Regions from separate parts of the Homo sapiens genome. Here all the other regions are linked to region 3. The links come from fine-mapping of genetic effects on gene expression. A gene starts in region 3. Each other region holds a variant in brackets. All regions are shown on one strand. Distances are from middle to middle. Region 1 overlaps MGAM (maltase-glucoamylase). Region 2 holds the start of MGAM2 (maltase-glucoamylase 2 (putative)). Region 3 holds the start of MGAM (maltase-glucoamylase).

Evidence for each region.
Region 1: its variant is fine-mapped to the expression of MGAM in whole blood (INTERVAL, PIP 0.98).
Region 2: its variant is fine-mapped to the expression of MGAM in whole blood (TOPMed, PIP above 0.99).

What each region holds. Positions count from the first base shown.
Region 1 is chr7:142,053,481-142,058,480 of GRCh38, reverse strand. MGAM (maltase-glucoamylase) reads right to left here. Exons shown (of 71, transcript NM_001365693.1): 27 at 3,573-3,727; 28 at 2,755-2,923; 29 at 2,385-2,481; 30 at 1,539-1,651; 31 at 153-278. Among named protein-coding and RNA genes, the nearest start is that of MGAM2, 56 kb to the left of the region's middle. The variant A/G (reference allele first, on the strand shown) is at 2,923.
Region 2 is chr7:142,106,427-142,116,131 of GRCh38, reverse strand. MGAM2 (maltase-glucoamylase 2 (putative)) reads right to left here and starts at 4,414. Exons shown (of 48, transcript NM_001293626.2): 1 at 4,325-4,414. It overlaps MGAM (maltase-glucoamylase), which reads right to left. Exons shown (of 71, transcript NM_001365693.1): 71 at 9,385-9,705. The variant G/A (reference allele first, on the strand shown) is at 6,336.
Region 3 is chr7:141,990,573-142,002,086 of GRCh38, reverse strand. MGAM (maltase-glucoamylase) reads right to left here and starts at 6,208. Exons shown (of 71, transcript NM_001365693.1): 1 at 6,157-6,208. RefSeq lists an enhancer at 6,009-6,510.

The sequences.
Region 1 (5,000 bases), 60 kb before region 3:
TATATTACTGTGCTGGGGTGAGGCTAACTGTGATATTGTCTGAAAAAGAACTTTATGTCTTTATGGAATCCAACAAACATTAGACAAATGAACCCAGACACAGAGGCACCTGGGTTAGTTTTGAAACTCCAGAGCCATGACTGAGAACGTACATAAGGGATCTGGGCAGCCACCATCTCATCATACAAGCTGGCGATCTCAGAGTCATTCTGGTAGCCATAGCGACACAGCTGGAACCCCAAAGACCAGTAAGGTACCATCACAGGCCGGCCAATCAACTAGAAAATAGACAGAAAATATTAGTCTTCAGAACAGAGGCACCACATTGAAGTTTTACATCAAGTAATAAGAATATTTTTCTGTGCCCCAAGCTAGACAACTAACTAATTGAAATCCAGACCAAAACTGACAGGATATAGAGCCACTAGGATACTTAGAGAAAGCTTTCTGCTAGACTTGAGCTCCTTCTTAAAAATTATGGAAAATCTGATGTTACGCTATTCCTAGAGACACTGTAGATAACTGGTTAAGAAACCCAGAATCAGAGACATATGCCTGGCTTAGTATACAGGCTCCAATCCTGCTAGCTGTGTGACCTTGGGCAAAAATTAAGTAATCTCTTAGTGCTTCAGTTTCTTCATCTGTAAATAACGGATAATAATAGCATCTGCCTGATAGTGTTTCTGTGATGCATGAATGAGTTAATATGTGTGAAATGCTCTAACATGCAGCAAGTGATAAATCAGTGATGCGCACTTGGTAGTATGTAAGTGTCTGTTGTTGCTGCCACGACCACCATGGTCATCATCACCATCATCACCACCACCATCATCACTATTTTCACCATCACCCCCAGTACCACGATCGTGCCCCCACCACCATTACCATTATCATTACCCTTCACTACCGTCACCACCACCCCCCACTACCACCCCCACCACCACCCCAACCACCATCCCCACCATCACCACTATCACCACAACCACTATCACCAACATCACACTCCTCACACCACCTCACTGTCACCACCACTACCACCACCACCATAACCAACACCACCATCATCATCACCATCACTACCACAAACACCATCGTCAGCCCCACCCTTGTCACCATCACCACCACTATCACCGTCATCATCACCAACACACCCATTACCACCACCCCCACCACTATCATCACCATCACCAACACCACTACTACCACCACCATCATTATCACCATTCCCACATCACTATCACCACCGTCAGCCCCTACTGCCATCATCACCATATAACCACAAATAACACCAACATCACACTACTATCACTACCAGCACCACCACTAGTACCACTATAACTTCTGCTATTCTGCAATGCTTACAGAGGCTATAAATTTAATGATAATTAGAATGTATTTATTTTTTCTCATTCTATAATCTCTCTCCAAGAAAGACCAATATTTCCAGTTGTCAACTGAGAGTTATACTAATCAATGTGGACTCTGGCACCCAGAATGTGCTGTGTAAGTACTTGATAAACAATTGGATTTCCCCCTACCTCAGTGTACTGCTGGGTGACAAGCTCTGGAGTCGGCCCCAAGAACACATAAAAGTCCAGAACTCCCCCTGTGGTGCGGTATGTCAAGGCAGGCAGGGGCTGGAACGTCACATCTGAAAATAAAGAAAAATGCCAAGCCTCACGGACACCTTCCATGTCACGAATCACCCCTGAAATCCACACATTCTCCATCTTCCTGCACCCTCCCTATCATAGAGTAGTAACAGCAGGCATTTTCTATCATACTCACAGAACTGAAGAAGATCAATGGAAGTCTACAGGTCCCATTCCTGGGTTTGATTCTCTTTAGGGTACTTTACTATATTTTATCATTCTACTCTTATAAAATTATTATTTTTTACATTTCAAGTTTTATGTTAGATAAAGAGATACCTGTTCAGGTTCCTTACATGGGAATATTGCATGATGCTGAGGTTTAGGGTATGGATCCCTCACCCGGACAGTGAGCAGAGTACCCGATAGGTAATTTTCCAACATACCATACACCCTCAATACCCCCAGACTAACTTCTCTGACCCATAGTTTTACCCTAATTCAAATTATATAACTGGCTCTCACGAGCTGCCCTCCAGGATATTTGGGACCCATGTGGTGTTACTATCCCTTCTTATGTGATTTTTACCAAAATGAGAGTTGGGTTAAATCTTCTTATTACATGATATTAGATTGAAATAAACAGAAAGGCTAAACACAAAGAAAAAATAAACAGCAGTGCCCGTAAAATGAAGATTTTGCCTTCAAGGAACAGTTAGGCTAAACACATTGTAAATTGACTCAGGCATGATTGGTATCCCCCCAAAATAAGGGAGGTGCTGATGGCCTTACCCATGGCATTGCTGTTCAGCAGGAGCACTCCATGGGCACTGCCGTCCTCCTCCAGCCCCATGTAGTAGGGGTGGACACCATAGGAATTCTTCTTGTACTGGGGAGTCATGGGAAGAAGCAGTAGGAGTTTAAAAGACATTATGCCTGAGAAAGAAACTCAACAAAAATGTGCTTGCTAACATGGCTCTAGTTTTCTCCATGAAACTAGACACATAAACTAAACACATGAAACAAAGGAGCCTGAGAATTGGCCCACTTGCCTAAAAGCAGAATGTGATGACCAAGTGGAGTTTGGGAAGATGAAGCCCAAAGCCTGAGCAGTGTGGGTGGAGAGAAGCAGAGACACAGATCCCAAATGCTCTGTCCTTACCCCTGGGGGCTGGTCTCGGGAGAACATCCCCCAAGTGTGCCACTCCAAGTCTCTCCTATAGGACCTGTGCTCAGTTTCCCCAAAGCCATAGAGGTACTTGGAGGGAAGGCGGGTGGAGATGCGGATAAACATGTCACTGAAGGTAAAGCCAAGGAGCTGAGAGTCCCA[A/G]CTGAAACACAAAAACGCAGATTTGAAACAGAAAATGAGCTTTTATCTCTGTTTCCAGCAGGTGACTTTTCAAGGACAACAGAACACTTGATTCCTACCAAGAAGCTGTTCATATCCCAAACAAAACTGAAACTCAATTTGATTAAAATATCACAGATATCCTCGCTAAAAGCCCAGGAGTTATTCATCATTCTTCCGTTTCCCTCTGTCACTGCCTCCTTTCAGTGGTCCTCCACAATACAAATCCAAGCACCCCTCATCATCACAGCTGGGACCACTCCACACCAGCACTGCCTTCCATCCTTGCACCCCTCAGTCCATTTTCTACATAGCACTCAAAGTGATATTTACTTATTATTTGTTGTCATGAGAAGAGAAACCTCAGCTGTGTATAAGGAGCAGCACCTAATCTAGAGAAGGCACCCCATAAACATTTGTTGGATGAATCCTCAGGCACATTCAACTCCTTCAGTATTTATTTCCAGAATGCTAAAGATTTCCTGTAAGAATAGGTCTGAAGGAAACAACTCATCCATGGATCTGGAAGTGGACAATGTGATGTTTTGAACCAGGATACATCCAAGGACAATGGACCTGGCAGCGAAGGCGCAGGTAGCCATCAACTCTGAGTCACACTAGAAGCCACTCACATTATAGTGCCTGTACTCTTCCGGCGAATTTCAATCCCAAATGGATTCTTCTTAATGAGCACATCATAGAGTTGACCCTCAGGGGTGCTGGATGGCATGCTGGGTATGTTCAGAGGGACTGGAACTTCATACCGATTCTTGTTGGGATCATAAATCTAGGCCAGAGGAAATCAATTTTAGGCAACAATACTACTCTTGAAACCTATACCCTTAGCAGAACCTTTTTGATTTTTGGACACAAAGTTCAGATGCTATGTTTCTATCTTCTTTATGATATCTGAGATTTAATTAATATATCAGATAACAATGTCACATTTAACATTTTTCTGTGATTTCTCATTATTAAGGCCTCTATTACCTTAATAAACTCAATGGGACATTGCTGCTGACTTGGAAAATCATTCTGGAATCAGTGTGGTATTTATGAATATGTTACTTGTTATTTTCTGTGGGTATATGAGTATATATAAATAACTTAAAATCATTATGAGTTCAAAAAAAAACCTGTCTCCCCAAAATGAAATCTATTTGATTAAAATAATCAGAATGTCCTTGCTGAAAGTGGTATCTAAACTGATTCATGAGTACCTACTACATCCCCTGCCTGACACTGCACAAGACACTAGGGACGTGAGCTCAATAAGGCAGTGTTATGGTTTTACGAAATTCACATGCGAATAAGAAGTCAAAGAGAGCAGCTCACAACACGTGGGTGATGTGTGCTAAGGGAGAGCTATGTAGAAGTGCTGTGAGATTCTAGGGAAGGAAATGCCTAACATTGTTTCTGGGAGACTGAGACGGTCTCACGGGAGAAATACAGTCTAGAATATTAAAAGCTTGGTAGTCATTAACCAAACAAAGAAAGGAGATCAAGTCATTCTGGTGAAGAATAACAACCACGAAGGCAGAGAGAATTAAAGTGGGCCAGAAAGAGGCACATATTTTGGAAAGAGTTACTCTACGGTCAAGAGGTAGAGTAGGCAATGGTTAAGGCTAGAACTCCAGGGAAGTTCATTCACTTCAAACCCATTAGGTGCCTAAAACATGCTAGTGTTACAAGGAGGGTACAAACATACAAGAGATTCTTCCCTGCATTAGAGGATGAACAAGAACTCAGAATTCGGGTTGATGTCAGATTGTAAAGAACCTTTCAGGCAATGTGACAATGTCCTGACCACTTTCACTTACTCTGTCAATAACATTACAGCACTATCGGCCAGGCTCTGTAGATTTCAGAAGCACAAACAGGAAAGGGCACATTCCTGTCCTTGAGAAGCTTAGTTTAATAGAAAAATAGACATCACAGCTAGTCCATCCCTAGTCCTTAAATGCAATTAAATTCTGGAAAGAAATGAAATTACTGCATATTGATGGCCATTTTACAGAAATCTCAAATTCAGCATCCCAAACTGAACATATCATCTTACA
Region 2 (9,705 bases), 110 kb before region 3:
TTCATCTACAAAAATGACATCAGACACTGGATGTGTTCTCATTTTTCTGCTCTAATTATAGTAAATCTAACATTATTACATGTCTACAGATCCATGACAGCCCTCAGCTGCAATGCCTTCTTCGCCATTCCATCTCCATCATCCTCAAATGTTTGCTAGCCCCTGGAATTTATCATCCCCAGAACTGTTACACTTTTGAAATTGTAAATCCATATGCAAATGAGCAATGTCCTTTTACTGTCTCATTGTCTGACTTTATTTTATTTATTTATTTATTTATATATTTTGAGATGGAGTTTCACTCTTGTTGCCCAGCTGGAGTGCAATGGCACGATCTCGCCTCACCGAAACATCTGCCTCCTGGGTTCACCCAATTCTCCTGCCTCAGCCTCCCGAGTAGCTGGGATTACAGGCATGCGTCACCATGCCCTGCTAATTTTGTATCTTTAGTAGAGACAAGGTTTCTTCATGTTGGTCAGGCTGGTCTCGAACTCCTGATCTCAGCTGATCTGCCCACCTTGGCCTCCCAAAGTGCTGGGATTACAGGCATGAGCCACAGCACCCAGCCTGCCTTACTTTATTTTAAAAAAGTATCTTATCACATCAAGGCAGCTGTTATCTTTCCATTTCCTTTTAATCTCTTAGCCCTTCCTAGCTGTTAACCCTAACTGACCTAGGCCTCAGTATTGATTATTTAACTTGCCATTGCTCTCATCTTCCTCGCTCTCTATCTGCTAACAGAATCTGCAGGATGAAACTATCCATCCAAACATCTGCCTTCTGTGCTGCCGCACGTAACTCAAGGGAGATGCCACCGAGGCTCATAATCTCCTAAATAAACTGGGCCTGCAAGCCGACTGATGGTCTTGACAGTGCCTCTCACTTTTCGCAGCAGTAATTTTATTTTTATTTTATTTTATTTTTTTGCAGACGGAGTGTCACCCTGGAGTGCAGTGGCGCAATCTCAACTCACTGCAACCTCCACCTCCCAGGTTCAAGGGATTATCCTGCCTCAGCTTCCTGAGTAGCTGGGACTACAAGTGCATGCCACTACGTGTGGCTAACTTTTTGTATTTTTAGTAGAGATAGGATTTCACCACGTTGGCCAGGCTAGTCTCGAACTCCTGACCTTAAATGATCCACTTACCTCGGCCTCCCAAAGTGCTGGGATTACAGCATGAGCCACCGTGCCTGTAATTTAAAAAATTGTTCCTTCTATCCTTCTTTTCAGGCCTGACTCTATTACCTACACTCTTATTCTCATGCAGTATCATCTCTGATATCACCCAAAAAATAATGATTTTGCAGAAACTATTCTCTCTCTCTGCTTCTCAACCCAAGCGTTTCCACAAAGGTTATTCACATCTAGGTAAATTCTTATTTTTCCCCCTCTATTCTCAATGAAACAGTTTTTCCTCTTCTTGTTTAAGCATAATCCTTGTATCTGTTATCTAGATCTCACAGCTGTTGAATTTCTCAAAAATTTCATTCCACCAATTATCTCTTATTGTCTTGCATTATCAAATTCACTCTCTGAATATCTTTCCTTCATAAATATACCCCAAGTCACCCCAAACTCTGTTAATGACTCTGTGTGCTTCTGCAGGTAGCATAATAACATTCTTTTTCTTTCCAGTGCCAATCTTCCAAAACGATAGTTCCACACTTTCTGTATTCCCTTCCTCATGTGTTATTGGCTTGGCTGTGTTTTCTGCATTCCACTGGAAATGCTCCCACCGAGGTTACTAGTGACATAGTGGCTGAATACAATGGGCGCTGTCTTAATCACTTAACCACTTTCTCCTCCATGAAACTTTCCACATATGGATTCCTTGATAGGAATCTTGGCTTTCCACCTCTATTTCTGGCTTATCTTCAATATTCTTTGTAGTCTCCTATTTCTTTCTTTCTTTCTCTCTTTCTTTCTTTCTTTCTTTCTTTCTTTCTTTCTTTCTTTCTTTCTTTCTTTCTTTCTTTCCTTCTTTCTTTCTTTCTTTTTTTGAGATGGAGTCTCGCTCTGTTGCCCTGGCTGGAGTGCAGTGGCGCGATCTCGGCTCACCGCAACCTCCGCCACCCAGGTTCAAGTGATTCTCCCGCCTCAGCCCCGCGAGTAGCTAGGACTACAGGCACCCGCCATCATGCCCAGCTAATTTTTATATTTTTGTAGAGACAGGGTTTCACCATGTTGGCCAGGTTGGTCTTGAACTCCTAACCTCAGGTGATCCGCCCGCCTTGGCCTCCCAAAATGCTAGGATTACCTGCGTGAGGCACCACGCTCAGCCCTATTTCATTAAATGTTGATGCCCCCCAAATTCTGGTATAGGCTTCTTTTTTAAACTACGCAGACACGTTGGGTAATCTCCACCACTCATGTGACTTTATATGACATGTGATGGCAATCCAACCTGTATTTCTAGCCCAGGGATTTAGATTCATATATTCAACTGCCTATTGGATGTCCCACAGATTCAATAAGATTTAACATGTTTAAACATGAAATCATCTCTCCCCACACCTCACTCCCAGTTCCTGCCAATTTGGCCAAATTATCTGTTCTTCAAATAATTAATAACTTGAGGAATAGAATCACATTATAAAAAAAAAACCTAGGAATCTTTTTTTAATTCCTCTCATTCTGTTAGTTCTCACAGCCAGTTAACAGTTCAGTCAGACTACTTTCCCGGTATCTTTGGGTCATTACCCAAGTGACCAGCACAAACAGGGTCATTTGGATCTCCTATATTCAAGCCTTTAATGGATCTCTGAATAAACCAAAAACCCTTTAGCTTTGTGATCAAAGGTCTTCATGGCACGTCCTAACCCCAGCTGCTCAGCGTCTCCTCTCCCCATATTCCCACCATACTAAACCAGCACTTATGCAGCAACAAGCTATTAAATATAAGTCAGCAGGGACAAAGACTGTTCTCTCTCTTATTTTTATGTTGATTTTGCATCTCCTCTTACTTTTCATTTCCCTGCCTCCCTGCTCTTCTCAACTCCTCCCCAATGCCACGACCATTTCTACAAATATTTTTATATAGGTATATAGCTTCAATTTTTAATTACAGTAGCCTTTAGGTTAATGTGTAATAATTCCATAAAAGAAGCACTTTAATATTGAAATAGAGGTAAGGAACTAGGACCTACAGGTAATTTGCCAACAGGCATTTAGGAAGAACCCTTAGCCCTTGGAGACACGAGGTTTGGGATTAAAATTGAGGTTTATTAACTATTCTTTACTATTTACCTAAATTAATCAGTTGTCTCTCTTTTAGTCTAAATTATTTAAAAGATATACTCTAATCCCTATAAAATATATATCATATGACTGTATTCTCATAAAATCCCTGCATTGAAGCTGATCAGACAGATATCATGATTTCCATTTTATAGATGAATATTAAGAAATTTTGTCTAGTCACGGTTAGTGGTGGAACTGAGACAAACACCGAGAGCCGCTACTTTTTAAAATAGTACTTGAATACTCTCTCGACAATGTATCCTAGGCTGCAGAGCTTAAAGACTTAGAGGATCGGTCTCCAATGGTGGAATTTCAGGTAGAGAAAGAAGTAGGAAGGACCTACCCTAAGAGTGCTATGGTATCAAACTTCGTTTCTTATACATACAGCCCACAACTCAATACCACAGCAAAGGCATTATTCATCAATTGGTCTCTTTCTGCAAGTATTATTTCTCTCCACAGGGAGACTTTTTTCTTTCTAGCTTCTAAAAATCAGCAGCAGGGACCTACTCCACAGCTCCTCAATCCTCCTGAGGGAGCAGGTTCAGCACCTTAGCTCAGGAAGTACAGGAACGCTCTGGGAATAACCCTGGGTATTTTCCTGCCTTAGGAGCTATTGTCATTCAGGCAGAGGACAGGATGGGGATTCCTAAAGGTAGAAATTCTTGCCTACTTAGAAACCCTTCCTGCCCAAAGCTGGGAGGAATTCACCTTCCTCCAAATCCATGCCATCTTGAGATAGTTTCCAGAAGGATCCCATCTGTTTCCTCTGTCCTTAATTTCTCCCAGTGAGAGAGGAGGATCTCACACCAGACCTCCCCCAACCTGTCCTCCAAACACTGACACCACACACACACACACACACACACACACACACACACACACACACACAGTCTCTCCTCTCCATCAACTATCTCATCCTCACTCCTCATATTTTATGGAAAAGGAAGAAAATATTAAGTCCAGAAGGAAAACATGGGCATCCAGATCACTTAACAGAGCAGCAGACAGAAAATCACACAAAAAGAAAGGGACCTTCCTGCCCTTGTTCAAAGCCCTGCTTGCATGGAGAAGCGTACTCACCGCATCACCTTGTTTTTTTCTATGCTGTATCTCTCCCTCAGCAATTCATAGGGAGCACTGAGCAAAGGTAACTGGGCTGAGGTAGCCAGCTTCTGCCACAATTAATTTATTGCCTTATAAAGTTGACAGCAACTGGAGGAGGGGAGTGCATATTCCAATAGGTCATAAAAGAACGCTTGTTCTCCATGTGACACAGAATGAAAGCTCCTTTTGTTAATAAAAGGGGAAGGTGGTTTTTTTTCTACTCATTGTCCCTCTTCTGTATCCCTGTTCATATCTGATTACTTGTCACGTTATGTTTCCTCATCTATACATGTAGCCTAAAGGGCTCAAGAGCTAGGGTCTTGTCTATCTTCTTCACTGTTGTATCTCCTGTGCTTAGCACTCTGCCCAATATCCATAGTTCTTTTTAAATATATAGCTATTTATTTAATAAGTAAGTGAAAGAAGGATTAGCTCTTAGTTCATCACTTTGTTCTTTTCTCCATTTTCATCCTCCAGAGTTCTCTTGGTATAACTCAGCTTTTCATTAATTCAAATGATCCTTTCCACCAATTATTCTAAATAGTGAAGTACCATTAAAGTAGCAATTATACAAACCCGTCCAGGTGCAGTGGCTCACACCTGTAATCCCAGCACGTTGGGAGGCCGAGGTGGGCGGATCACCTGAGGTCAGGAGTTTGAGACCAGCCTGGCCAACGTGGTGAAACCCCATCTGCACAGCCAGGCATGGTGGCAGGCGGCTGTAATCCCAGCTACCCAGGAGGCTGAGGCAGGAGAATCGCTTGAACTCAGGAGGTGGAGCTGGCAGTGAGTTGAGATTGCCCTATTGCACTCCAGCCTGGACAACGAGAGCAAAACTCCATCTCAAAAAAAATAAAAGAGAAAGAATGTATACAAACCTAAAGTGGGAAGATGCCTCTAGTGGACATTTGTCATGTTCTTCGATGGCTCAGCATCTTTCAAAACCTCTTGCTAAGATGGGGGAGGTGGGGAGGGAGACAAAGGTAGTAACACTACCTATTGGGTACTATACTCACTACCTAGGTGACAGGTTCAATCACACCCCAAACCTCAGCATCACACAATATACCCTTGAAATGAACCTGTATATGCACCCTGAATCTTAGACCCTGAATCTAAAATAAAAGTTGAAAAAAATTTAAAAACGGAGGATCTTTCTTTAAAAAGAAAAAGAAAACCTCTTACTTAAATCAACTTAAGGACTTTTTCTCCAAATTCTGCCTCCCCAAAGAAACAGCTAGAAATTCTCTTTCACAGCCTTTCTTTCATCCAAGGTAGAGGCAAGTGGCTGGAGCTTTGTGAATGAGATATTCCTGTGAGTGACTTACATCCAGAAGAAGGTGTAGATAAGGAGGTACCATGTAAAATCCAGGATGTTGGAAGCATAGCTCGTTTCAGAGGCAGCAGGGACAAGAGACCTAGTGGCATCCTATGCTCAGTATTTGGGGTTGCGAGCTGCCAGATATGTGCTCAGGGCAGTGGCAGTAGAAACCGCTACAGGGTAACCTGGGGCTTGTCCCTAGCCACATGGCCTACAAACCTGACTCTCTAGTCCTACCGGAGTTTCAATGAGTCACCAATATCTTTTTAAAATTTTTCTTAAGCCAGCTAAAGTGGATTTTTAAATTGACATATAATTTCCAAACCATAAGATTCACTCTTTTAAAGTATACAATTCAGTGTTTTTAAAAATATATTTACAAAATTCTGAAACTATCACCACTATCTAATTCCAGAACATTTTTGCCACCCCCAAAAATAATTAGTGGTCACTCCCCATTCCCATCTCCCCCTGTTTCTGCAGCCACTAACCTACTTTCTGTCCTTATGGATTTGCCTATTGTGAACATTTCATATAAATGCAGTAATACAATATGTGGCCATCTGTGTCTGGCTTCTTTTACTTGGCATGATATTTTCAAAGTTCATCCACACCATTTCAGGTATCAGTGTCTGTTCCTTTCCATGTCTGGATAGTATCCACTGC[G/A]TGGATAGACCACATTTTGTTTAGGCATGTATCAGCTGATATACATCTAGGTTGTTGATACTTTTTGCCTGTTATGAACGATGCTGCTATGAGCTGACACGTTTTAAAATTCTGCCTGGAATATACCTAGGAGTGGAATCATGGGTCATGTGACAAGTCTTTAACTTTTTGAAGAACTGCAAAACTGCTTTCTAATGTGGCAGCACCATTTTACACCCCCATTCCTGCCAGTAATATATGAGGGTACAGAGAGCTCTTTTGGTGGCACCTAAGAACTGTAAATAACAGTGTTCACAGTAGTGAATCTTTTGTGTTTGCTTCAAATGCTCAGTATGTGGAAAAGCACACATACACACACACACGGAGAGAGAGAGAGAAAGTGAGAGAGAGAGAGGGAGGGACAGAGAGAGAGAGAGAGAAAGAGAGACTCGGTTTCTGCATTTATGAACTGCTGGAATGACATATTCAGCTTTTCATTTGCCCCAGTACAAGGTGGCCTTTGTTAGAGGGGAAATGTACCAAGATCTCATTTCAAATTGGGAAGACATCCTGGCAAAAGGTCAAGAAGGGAGATTTTATTGTTACATAAGATCTATTTTTTGTGTGATATTTTACCTTTAACTCCCCACATGCCATGCACATTTGTGACTTCATTTATGTTAATAGTGGTAACCAACAGGCCCAGCTAATCTATAACCTGTTTCCTAAAGTGCAGAAAATAGCTACCTTCACCTTCCATTCTTGCTAACTAGTAACTGGAAGATATTGAATCACCATACTGGTGTTGACCAATGAGAAAATAACAGAGCCACTTTGAAGGGTAGAGACAGGCACGTGACCCGACATCTTCCAGTTGTCTATCGGTAACAAGGCACGGCAAAGTTAGCTATTGGCGGAACTCAAACAGTTGTCACAGCAAGCTGCTGGTTGGAATCATCAGATCAGAAACTAGTAATATGAGTCACCCTTAACTTCCAGAACACCTTTCTCCAAGGCCAGATGCAAAACTCTCAGTGACTCTGCCGCTATGACAAGAACAAAGAAATATTGATGAGATCTTGAAGACATCTGCCACGGCCAACATAACCTTATCTTTGCAGGTATATATGACATTTAATGTTATAACATTAATAAGAAAGGAATAGATGTCTTCCTATTTAAGTGAAAGAGTTTGAGAGTGTTTTTTTTTTTATTTTGGCACACCTATGAAGAAAGCAAAATTATGTGATCTAAAAAACAGAGCATATGTGGAAAAGGAAGGCCCCCAGCCTCTTCCTGAATAGCTGGCCAGGAGTTGTAAGCATAGGTCCATGTTGTAGGGGCTGCTCTGGGATGGCCACAAATGGATATGGTTCCATGAGAGGTGGTTCTCAGACTGTGATCTGAGGAACAACCTCTGGGGGTATTATTGAGCGAAAGGGCTCACTCTTCGATGCGCTAGAAGCCAATACTCTGATAAAGGGTTTCGAAGAAAAGCTTTTATTGCAAAGTCGACTCACAGGACACAGGAGTCCAGCTCAAACCTGTCTTCCTGTGCTGGCTTTAAGGAAGTATTTTTATCAGAAAAGACTTAGGGGGTGGATTCTGGGATTAGCAGGTGATTGGTAAAAGAAAGAGGAAATCTAGAAAGTCCTCAGGCATGCACAGTTATCTCTTCATGCCTCATCATGGGTCTCATGTGCAAATTTGGGAGGGAGTTAGTAAGAACCTGTGGTGGAAATTCAGGCTGTGACGTCAGCAAGCTCTTTCTGCGTTAACTCCGGTAAGCCATATTGGTTCCAACAGATAATCTCTTTTTCACACATTTCTGGCTGAAATTTAGCATTTTGTTAGGTTATGAATGTAGACAACAAAACACAGTAGTTTTCATAGCACATGAGTTTGTCAATAATGCAATCACAGATCTTTCCATATTACATTATGAAATTGTAGTGGATATCTCAAAATATTGTTGATGTTGATCATTACATTGAAATTATAGCATTGTTACTTCCACTGTTGGATCTTTTCATTTAATTTGATAATGAAAAAAACACATCTCATGGGTTACTATATCATCTTTAATATTTGGATAAGTGTATCGTAATATGATAAGTTTTCTTTGAAATAGCATGCATTTTGCTTGATGCATTTAAAAACAATGTTGTGAGGAAGAATTCCGTAGGTTTCACTAGGCTGTCAGTGGGGTCCCTGACACTTCGTGTGCTCCAAAACCCCACTGGCCTCACTAGGGCCTTAGCCATCAGAATTATATAGTCAGAATGCCTCTCCTTAAGCATTCTGTGGCAGCCAGAGCCAAATTCCACCAACATATCCTTGATGGTAACATTAAATATTTTTTAAATATCAAGTAAATAACGTTTTCATCTTTGTGGCCTTCCTGAGTTTGTTAGAGGAAAGCTGACAAGTTTCCCACCTTTTTGATCAAAGGATTCCCATGGCTGCTTTTCCATATTTCACCAGTTTCCTAGTTAGCTCAGGCCCTCATCCAAATGCCCCGTATTGTGATAATTAGATGATTTAACAATATTGTTTGTCTCTAGCCTTATGCAGGTGCTGACACATGAGTGTGCAGGGAGAATGAATGGCTTCCTGGTTATAAGAAAAGAAGAAAACACAGAGAAGTAGGTTCATTCATTCCACACACATTCATTTTCAACTCATTTTCAGGTAACATCAAAAGTTAATATTCCTGTTGAACATTAATATATAATTTCCTTATCTCACATTTTAACCCTATAGAATTTTAAGCAAGAAGGTTGCAACTCCTATTTTTACTGGAGTTGGTATTTTCCTAAATATAGCAACTGCTATGATGATTAAAATAGTAATCAATAGACCCTTCCACAAACCCACATCTTATAAAAGACTCCTTGCAGAGATGTAAGAAAAAGGATAATTATAAAGGTTATCATCCTATTGGTGGATTTGGCTGTAGGTTCTGTGATGCCGAAGAGAACCAGAAAGACAAATTCATAAGAGTTTGCTAAACAAGAACCTTAACCCCAAACAGAGATTACTCATGGTCAAAATAGCACAAAATTCAAAATCACTTGCAAATTCACTTGTTTTATTTTTATCTGGCATATAAATTGCATATTTTTATGTGAAATGTGGTTGTATACATTAGAAATAAGATTTACACATTTCAAAGCACACTACTGCAAAAATAAATTATTTTTAACCTCCAAACTCTCTTTTGAGCTTTGCCTGCTCAGATCTCAATCTCACCAGTAGCCCTTTATGCTAAGGATTTCTCAAGACCCTCTTCTTCAAGTGAGTTGACTCTTCCTTTTTCCTCCCCATGAGGCTGCTGACAATTTTACATTATGTTCTTACTTAGGATCACTTTTACTATCATCTTCTGTTT
Region 3 (11,514 bases):
AGAGAAGGTGGTGCTAAATAGAGCATGAGAATCCCTGAGCTTGATTCCCAACCATACCATTTTTTGCTGTGGTAGCTGAAACAATTTATGTAATACTCTTGAGTCTCAATTTTCTTATCTGTAAAATGAAACTACAATTTCTTTTGTTATTATTATCTATTGCCACCTTCTTATTGTGGAAATCAAATAAAAATATTCTAAGTCATAAAGCACAGGTCTCATTATTTACCAAAGAGAAGACAGGTAATGGGTCCTGGGTAAGAAACAGAATGTTCCTACAAAATATGTCAGTCCCACTTTCCCTGAGTGTGTCACCACACCCGACTTGGTGTTCTGGTGGAGCAGCTGATGAACAATGCTGATTGCTGTCCTGGTTGGCTTGCTCTGGTATGACCTTCATTAAGTGCTTTATGGCCCCGTGTGTTGGATGACTCATGCATTGCCTGGGACATAGGTGCAGAAAGCCAGGAAGAGGAGCCATAGCTACAGTCTTGCCTATACAAGGCCTACTTTCTCCACCAACCCACCAATGCTTGCTTTCCCAGGCTGCCTTGTAAATCATACTCTCTTTACTCAAAAAGAACATCACCCTTCTTCTCCTGTGAGGTCTTAATTCATGACTCCCTAATTTAGGAATTGTTTGATATTTCCTTGCGGTCTCATTCTCCACCCAATCAATGTTTCCTCCCACATTCTCTTCAGTAGGAAGCAGCCATCCTTAGTCATTTATCCAAGGATTGGTTGAATAAGAGGACTTACTTCTCATACACTGATAAGAAACTGCTGTTAGTCAACGTAATGCCCTCTTACTATGCAAAAGGAAATGGAGCTGTGAAAGCAACCTTTCTCTACAGCAAGGATTGCCTTGTGTTTTCTAGAATAAATTACTCCAATTCTAGTCTTTCTTACCATGACTGTCACCACTATCTCACATTCCAAAGAGCTTCATAAGAAATCCTATAAAATTAAACTTGCTTGTTAAATTCCATAAAGATTAATAATCTCTCATGCCTGGTATAATTAAATTAACTAATAAAGCAAAGAGTAATCTTATGTTCACTGATAAGAAGAGGAGTTAGAATGTCTATCCAAGTGACCATGCCTCCTCTTTGGTAGATGCTAATAGTTGTAAGATGTGAGATTGCTTTTTATAAAAATATTTAATTTTTTTCCAAGTGTTTATTAACACACTATGTTAGACACTATGAAGAAACACCCACCGACTGCTGGTCAAACTATAAACACCCTATGCTCAATGAAGACTTGGTAAAAACTATTAAAATTACTCATGCCCATTACCCAGCAATTGCATTTATAGAAATTCATCCCTTAAATACACTTACACACTTGGGAATCAATGTATATACAAATAAAGGTTTTTCATCACAGTATTACACGTAATAGCAAAAAAGTGTAAATATCCATAGAGACAGCAATCAGTAAATACGTGAAGTAAAATATAATTCAATGTTATTTAAAATCATCACACGGCAGGTGTTTTTAATTTAACAAATTATTTGATACTCCTCTCTTCAAGAGGTAGGGCGAGTCCCCACCACCTCACCCTCTGAGGATGAGCTGGACTTAGTGACTCACTTTCAACAGATAGGATGTGGAGAAGGGATGGCATCTAACTTCCAAGACTAGGCATTACAGCTTCCTCCTTGCTCTTTCTCTTGGATCATTTCCTGAAGAAACCAGTTACCATGCCATCATAACATTCAAGCAGGACTATGGAAATTTCTAGCAAAGAACTGAGGTCTTCTGCTAAGAGCCATCTGAGTGAGGTCCCTTGAAAGCAAGCCTCTACCCCTATTCAAGCCTTCACATGACTACAGTCCTGGCTGACATATTGGCTGGATTCATGAGAGACCCTAAATCAGCACCACTCGGCTAACTCACCCCCATATTTCTGACCTACATAAATTGGGAGATAATAAATGTTTGTTGTTTTAAACTACAAAATTGTAAGGTAATTTGTTACCCTGCAATAGATAACCAATATGCATAGGTAAATATGACTTTTTAATAAAATATCATTAGCATATTTTTAAAAACATGTTTGCTGTTTATTAATAGTCCTTTTGCTCCATATTTTCAAATATGGTTACTTGCTCTATGGAACAATAATATCTATTTTCTAGCTATACAAGAGAAAGATTTCCTTAAACCTTAAAAAAAACTCCAGCATTATCTGATTGACCTTACTTCCTGCATTATAGAACTCTTGATGGTGAAGCTTCCTATCTCAATTAGAAATGCAATTGAAGAAAAACTAAGATCAGGAAAAATGGCAAGACGCAAATAAAAAAGGAAATAATTTAAATAGGGTTAAGGGCTTTTAAAAATGTTTTTTAAAAAACTGCTACTTGGCAATCTGTCCTTAATCTTTGACTATTTTTTTATAGGACAAATATATAACTATGCAATTTTAATGCTAATGATAATAATGGTTAACAGTGATTGAGCAGATATCCTAAGAGGTTTCCATAATTTGTCACATGCCATTTTTATAACGACTGCAAGTTAATCATGGCTACTATCCTCACTTTCAGATGAAAAAACTAAGCTTCAGAAACGTCAAATAAACTGCCTGATGTCATCATACAGCTGATAAGGAGCAAAGCCACAATTTGAACACCTGCCCTTTGGACTCCACAGCCATGGCTTTTAACCATCACTCTGTATTCTATGCTATAATGCCCCACAGTGTACACCAGCTTGGGCTTTCTGTGAGATTATAGTTTTATCAAATAAAAACACATTAAGTTTATGGCCCATAGCACGTTTTAAATTATCTGGGAGACCTAGAAGAAGCTACTGATGTGCCTCATTTGCCAAGATCATTCATCATTATCTAAACTACATCTCTGGAAGAAAGAAATCTGCTTGCAGTTTATTTATTCATTCATGAATTATTTATTAAGTTCCTACAATGTGCCAAGCATTCTTTCAAAAACTGACTACACAACAATGAACAAAACAGATAAAAATCCCTGCCGTCATGAGACTTATGTTCCCATGAATAGAAAAAAGAGACAATAAACAAAATAAATAAATATACACTGGGTTATACTGTGTAAGTATATGGAGAAAAAGTGGGGGGTAAATGAGGAATGTTGGGGTAAGGGTGGCAATTTTAATTAGGTTGGTCAGAAAATAATCTTACTGAAATATAAGAATTATTACTATATACATATGAACGCTTTTACACTGTTGGGAGTGTAAATTAGTTCAAGCATTGTGGAAGACAGCGTGGCAATTCCTTAAGGATCTAGAACTAGAAATACCATTTGACCCAGCAATCCCATTACAGGGTATGTACCCGAAGGATTATAAATCATTCTACTATAAAGACACACGCACACGTATGTTTACTGCAGCACTATTTACAATAGCAAAGACTTGGAACCAACCCAAATGCCCATCAATGATAGACTGAATAAACAAAATGTGGCACATATACACCATGAAATACTATGCAGTCATAAAAAAGGATGAGTTCATGTCCTTTGCAGGGACATGGATGAAACTGGAAGCCATCATTCTCAGCAAACTAACACAGGAACAGAAAACCAAACACTACATGTTTTCACTCATAAGTGGAAGTTGAACAATGAGAACACATGGACATGGGGAGGGGAACATCACACATTAGGGCCTGTCAGGGGATGGCGGGCTAGGGGAGGGAGAGAATTATGACAAATACCTAATGCATGTGGGGCTTAAAACCTAGATGATGGGTTGACAGGTGCAGCAAACCACCATGGCGCATGTATACCCATGTAACGAACCTGCACATTCTGCACATGTATTCCAGAACTTAAAGTAAAATTTAAAAAAAGAATTATTACTATATATACATTACGCAAAAGCAATAGAATTTTTTTCTTCTTGAATTATTTAGTATATGAATAATTGTCAAAGCTCATTGTCCTGGTACCATTATAGTTCTTTAGGCAAAGTAGACAAACCACATGGGGGCCCAAATTATTAAAATGGCTATCTAAATTAATTTGGAAAAACTGGATATTTGTCCTCTTTCCGGCATTATAGCCAGCGTTTGATGTGTATATGGAGGTCTAAGCCATTCTTTTAAAATCCTTTGCTAACACAAGACATGAGATCTAGTGGAAAAGAGGATTCATTGTGGATAGATAGACTAAGAACAACTTGCAAAGAGGACCCCAGTGAGCCATAGCTATTCATCAAAAATGCTGGGCGATATTAGTAGGTTGGGCCATCCTTTCCCAGCTGCTTGGTGAATGGGAAGGGATAAGGTAGCTAATGAATGGCTTTTTTCTTCCAAGTCTGGTCACACCCAAGGTGAGAGATTTAAGAGTCAGCTCTGACCCTAGCCAGCTGTATGACCTTGGAAAAATCCACTTAACCCCTCTGGGTCTCAGTTTCCCCATCTGAACTGCAAAAGGATCATCTCTAGGAGACAGCTAACTCCTCCTTGAGCCCAGCAACAGGGTGTGCAAAGGCTTATATTTCTCATCACATTCCACAGCTGCCACCTGAACAAATTTTAAATGGAAAATTTCTTTTCTAGTTCCATTCCATGCTTATAGAACAATTTTTATAGTAATTTTATTAGCTCATTAAAATGTATTTGTGAGGGAATGCCTGATAATAAAAAATAATCATTGGCATCTTGTGAGAGTGTGACTGAAATAGCAACAAGCTGTCTTAAATTTAGTGTCCCACTTCATTTGGTCCCTGGTAGCACAGGGACCTACCAGCACAACAAACCAAAGACCCCCTCCATCTCACCCCCTCTTTGCACACCTACAGACATACACTTACTGTCCCACACCAGGACACAGACTGTAGACAGTTTGGACATTGGGAGGTCTTCCTCGCCCAGCAAAGCCACTGATCAGATCCTGCATGAAGAACCTAGTGGTATCCTTTTTCAGGGAGACCCATGGGGATTAGTCTCAATTTCTCTCTCTTTCCCCAAGAGTAACTCTCCCTTCCCACCTCTGTAACCAGTCAGAAAAGAAATGCCTGCGTGTGTCTAGCTAGACTGGCAACTAGTAAGGATCCAACTTTTTTTAAGTTTTATTTTAAGTTTTATTTTAAGTTTATTTTAAGTATTTTATTTTAAGTTTTTAAGTTTAAGGGCCAACAACAATTTATCACCTTCTCCTCTTCCCACGAGCACTCCCATTCTACTCCACACATGACTGCCAGGACAGATACCCTACCTTTCTCTTTATGACCTCCTCCCACATTCCACAGGAAACCTCTCCTACCCACCAATGCACACCAACTCATAAATGCATCCCAATATTTTACACACATCCTCAGACTATCCCCTAAAATTATTCTGTATTTAATCAACAGAGGCACCAAACCCATAAGCATAGTGATATATTTCTCAATTTTCTGATTATAATTGGTTCTTCAGTTACATTTTCTCAATCACAACTCCAAATCCTTTCAGAGGGAAAATGCTCTAATCTCACTCCCAAATTCTAACTCCTTTTATTCATTTCTCTCACTTCATTTCCAGAATCTGAAAGAATTTCTGCCTGCTACCTCAACCTAAGTATTAAATAATTCATCACACCTCACACAGAAACACACACAAACACACAGGTTTCACTACAATCAGGCTTATAGATCCAGCCTTAGTTCAGAAAAATATACACACACTAAGAAAAAAAGATAAATGAGAATTTTGTTCCATGTGTATGCATGTGCATAATTTTTGATTTATTATTGGTGTTGTTTATCTTTGTGTTTAACAAATTAACAAGGGCTTTTTTTTTTTTTTTGAGACGGAGTATCGCTCTACGACCCAGGCTGGAGTGCAGTGGCGTGATCTCGGCTCACTGCAAGCTCTACCTCCCAGGTTCACGCCATTCTCCTGCCTTAGCCTCTCCGAGTAGCTGGGACTACAGGCGCCCGCCACCATGCCCGGCTAATTTTTTGTATTTTTTTAGTAGAGATGGGGTTTCACCATGGTCTCGATCTCCTGATCTCGTGATCCACCCGCCTCGGCCTCCCAAAGTGCTGGGATTACAAGTGTGAGCCACTGCACCCGGCCAACAAGGGCATTTTGACTAAAAGAGATCAACTCAAATTCACACACACTTGTAGACACACATCTGTAACCGTAAAAGAATACAAGGTTCACAAACATACCTCATTACCTCTTGCAGCCGCTCCCTCTCTGTCTGAAGGATGGCTTAGCAATAAAAGCAGAGGAGCACAGTCCACCAAAGCAACCAAAGATCTGGTAACTATTTACCGACCTATCAAGAAAATGTTAATGGCTTTCAAATGCAAATGAATGGCCAGCTTTTATTTCCAGGATCAGAATTTTTAGTTAATTAGTAATCGTGGTCTTGCTCTAAGAAGGACATCCTTAAGACTTTTGGAAGGAAAAGCCAGCTCCCATGACCCACTCCATCCCCTCCAGGCACTGAATGTTTAATCGGTGGTGAGGACACCCTGTATGTCTGGTAAGAGAACACAGACACAATTTGTAGATGATAAAGAGCAAAAAATAAATGACCCCAGTATTCCAAAAGAGCCCTGGTCTCTTGCACTGACTCCGAATCTCTCAGGAACTCACTGACGTTTAGTAGCACAATCTGATGATTGTGATGGAAGGAAGTTGTTTTAAAAATGTTTTAAAAATAGTTTTCTTCTTTCTTCTTTAAGGTGTCCTTAAGCTTGTTTGCAGTATGGAAATCCTTTAACAGTCTGGTGACTCTTGAACTGCCTTTGCAGAACTATAAATAAGAGAAATCTAACAAGACTGACTCCATCTTGCTTCTAACCTCCCAGGCTAAATTATGTTTTCTAGGGGATTTTTTTTTTTTTTGGTTGGCTTTTTGCTTATTCTAGTACAAAGGCCAAGAAACCTATGAGAGGGATTTAGTTTATAGTTAAACTTGGAGTCAAGGGAAAATGATCCCCCTCCTTGCCTGGAGCTTAAAGGCGCATTCATAAGGCAAGGTTGGAATTATGGTAGGGGCTTAGACTTTGCTAAAGAATAGGCATAAACAATGTCCTGCCATGGCTTAGTTTGTTTTTCTATAAGTTGCTTACTGCCCCAGTCACACAACCAGTGTCACAAAATTCATAACTTCCCCAACTACCAAAGATAACATCACTGTATTGGTCTGTTTTCACACTTCTATAAAGACATGCCTGAGACTGGGTAATTTATAAAGAAAAGAGGTTTCGTTGACTCAGTTCCGCAAGGGTGGGAAGGCCTCAGGAAACAATCATGGTGGAAGGGGAAGCAGGGACTTCTTAACATGGCGGCAGGCCAGAGAGAGTGAGCAAGAGCAGGGAAAACTGCTTTGCAAAACCATCAGATCTCATGAGAACTCACCCACTATCATGAGAACAGCATAGGGGGATCCGCCCCCATGATCCAATCACATCCCACCTGGTCCCTCCCTTGACACATGGGGATTATGGGGATTACAATTCAAGATAAGATTTGGGTTCTGACACAAAGCCTAACCATATCAATCACTATTGTGAAACCTAAATAACTGGTCTTTTAGATATTTGTTAGCATTTCAGTAGACCAACAGACACCACCTAGTCTTGAGGCCAACACACACACCCCTCCTGGGAACTGACTCAGTTGCACAAAGACAGTTTTAGGTGCTCCTGTGATTTCATTCCCTGCCAATCAATTATACAAGTTCCCCAGCCCCATGCCCACCAAAGTACCCTTTACAAACCTTAGCCTTTGAATCCTGAGGGAGAGGGGATTGAGAAGTTTTTGCCTGCTCTTGTTTGGCCAACACTGTGATTATTCAACTCTTTATTTACTGCAATGCCTGCTGTTCTCATTGATCTTTTTGGAGGGCAGTGGGCAAGAAGAACTTATGGAGCTGAGACATGCTTATAAACCCCTCTTAGAATTAATTCTTAGGCCAGGTGCAGTGGCTCACGCCTGTAATCCCAGCACTTTGGGAGGCTGAGGTGGACAGATCACCTGAGGCCAGGAGTTCAAGACCAGCCTGGCCAACATGGTGAAACCGCGTCTCTACTAAAAGTACGAAAATTAGCCGGGCATGGCGGTGCGTGCCTGTAATCCCAGCTACTCATGAGGCTGCGGCAAGAGAATCACTTGAACCCAGGAGGCGGAGGTTGTAGTGAGCTGAGATACAAAGAAAATCAATTACATTGAAACACAGTTACTATAATATTTTTTAAATTATAGTTTGTGCCTCTTTAATGACATACTAACAATAAAGCGATATGTCTAATAGCGATTGCAATTTCAAAAACATGATAAGCGTAAACAATATCTTGAGATTGTTTTAAATATATGATGTGAAAGTAACTGTGACCTCTCTTGAAACCAAATTCATAGGTACTACTAACACCACTGTAGTTTGCAGCCTAACTCTAAATTTCAATTAGAATTTAGCAAAGAAAAGATATGTAAATATTTTCCCCCTCCAAGTTCACAGGCTTTCAGAATTATATCTACAAACCCCAGGTTAAGAACTTTGCTCTGTTACTAAGTGGACCTTCCTCCAAGTGGGGCAGAGTTCCCCGCTCTGTGATACTCCAAGAGTTATCTGTGAACCTGTGGTTGCCAGCTTCCAGAAAAATAAGCACAGAAATTGAAGGTAAGTGTTGAGAGACTTGCATTACAATTTGACAGAATCATTTCATGTCATTGATCTTGATAATTAAAAAATGGAGCTTGTATCTGTATATGCTTTTTTAAAATTTATTTTTCAAGTAATTTAGTTTTAATTTTACAAAAGCCACAGTCTGTGATATATTGGACAATTTTAAAACAATTGCTGTTTTACCACACATAGTTTAAAAAGTCCTGCTCAGCTACTGCTATTTCTAGGCATTTGTCTTTATGGGCTAGTGAAAATTCAGAAAAAAATCTGGGCCAAGAGACCTAAATTTATAAACCATGTATATCATCTGGAAAATACAAACAAAAATCACTATCTCTTATCACAGTCGTTTCACAGTAGACATAGACAGATAATCAAAATTGAATCAATTTATCTCTTTGAAAGTTTACTTCCTTATCCTTACTTTTCTGATTTCATGAACCATCAGTGAACAACAACCACCGTGGTAACACTGACTTACCGTGTTTCTTTGGCATCATAGAATCAAAGAATTTACAGCTAAAAGAGGAAAGAAAGGAAAACTGGCATGCATGGAGGCTGGCCGAGTGCCAAGACCTTGGGTCTGAAGCAGTGGCTCATACATGTAATCCTAGCACTTTGGGAGGCCAAGACGAGAAGATCACTTGAGCCCAGGAGTTCAAGGCCAGCCTGGGCAACATAAGGAGAACATGTCTCTACAAAAAATAAAAAAAATCAGCTGAGTGTGGTGGTCCACACCTGTAGTCCCAGCTACTTGGGAAGCTGAAGTGGGAGTATCACCTGAGCCTGGGGGTCAAGGCTGCAGTGAGCTATGATCATGTCACTGCAGCCCAGCTTGGGTAACAGAGTGAGAGCCTGCCTCAATAAAAATAAATAAATAAAAACAAGACCTTCACCTACATGATCTCACTGATGTTCACAATGGCCCCAAGGCAGCAAATGTCTAAACTGCCACCCAAATGCACATCCATCAAGCTCCTAAGACATGTGACTTGAGTTGTTTGGTATCGCCCTTAAAGAACTTTAAAAATCACTAAGCATAGCCTCCTTATTTTACAGAAGAGGAAATTGAGACCCAGGAATAGGAGGTTTGTGTGGGTGGTGACTCAGAGTTCCAGATCCGAACAGGGCAGGCCTGAATTGCAAAGCCCAGGTCTGCTTATTAACTGGGGGAGCTTAAGCAACTAAGTCTCTGATTCTGTAACTTAAATGAAGATTAAAATACTACCTATCAATAAATTTATAAACTAGACAAAATAATGTGAGTAAAAGACTTGATGTTACTTAGTAAATACTCAGTAAGTGTCAGTTACAATTAATATGATCAGTTTGCATCTGCCACAGTTGTGACAAGAGCTCAGACCCTGAATCCCCAATCCAAGGCCCATTCAAATATGCCAATCTCTCATTCGACCCCAAATCAGAATTCCGAACATAGCAGGCAGTCATTCATGTTTACAAAGGAAAAATTATTGAACACCTACCCTGCACAACATCTATGATGTTGCCTGACTGTAGCAGTTTAAAGGCTTAGCTCCAAGTCCCTGGATTTAAAAACATGGTTCAGGCCAGACCAAGGTATAATCATTGTGGTGCCTGGAGTGGCTTGCTGTCTGGTGACATGGCCTTATCTAGGCTTGGAGATATTAGAAAAGCATGTCTACTTGGGAGCCTCGAAGACTATGCAAACGTGAGGATTGGAATGTGATTAAAATATCTCCTTTTCTCGGCCAGGTGTGGTGGCTCACGCCTGTAATCCCAACACTTTGGGAGGCTGAGGCAGGCGGATCATGAGGTCAGGAGTTTGAGATCAGCCTGACCAACATAGTGAAACCCCGTCTCTACTAAAAATACAAAAATTAGCTGGGCATGGTAGCGCGTGCCTATAATCCCAGCTACTCAGGAGGCTGAGGCAGGAGAATTGCTTGAACCTGGGAGGCGGAGGGTGCAGTGAGCCGAGATTGTGCCATTGTACTACTCCAGCCTGGGCAACAGAGTGAGATTCTGTCTCAAAAAAAAAAAAAAATCCTTTTCTCCATCCCCAGCCACCACCCTTACCCTAACCATTGTGACCCCACCTCTGGATCAAGCATTAGCCCTGGGGCTGCCTCCTCACTTCCGGCCACAGAAAATATAGCAATAACCACTTCCTCCACACAATTCCATCAATATACAGTCATTATGTGTGTACTACAAACAAGGCACTATGAGAATAACAGTAACAACATCTACAGAGTGCGTACTGTGGCCTATGTTCTATGCTAAATGATTTCCATGCATTATTTCACTTCCTCCTGGTAACTACGCTATGCAGTCGGTACTGTTATTATCCCAGTTTTACAGATGAGAAACCTGAGGCACAAAGGCGACTTGCCCCAGGTCATGTAACTAATGAGAGGCAAACCCAGAATGCAAAGCCAGGCAGTCTGGTCAAGCCTGCACTGAAATATAGATGAGCGTGATTCCTCCATGACCTCATAGCAGAGAGAAGTCAAATGGCTACGATGCTAAAGAGAAGACAGCACCAGCAAATGCTACTGGACAGAGAATACACATGCTGGGAGGGACAGGAAAGAAATCAAAGCCATAGCTGGGTGGAAGTGGGAAGGGAAGGCGAAAAGGAAAGATATTTTGGGCGAAGGGAGCAGCATTAGCCAGACCCACAGGTAAGAAATAACAGAACCGGTGCAGCGCACCAGCATGGCACATGTATACATATGTAACTAACCTGCACATTGTGCACATGTACCCTAAAACTTAAAGTATAATAATAAAAAAATAAAAAATAAAAAAACATAAAAAAAAAGAAATAACAGAACCTGTTTTAGAAACTGCAGTAAAAAGACACAGAGAAGACAGTTGTGAGACAATCAGGGACACTTCTGGGAAA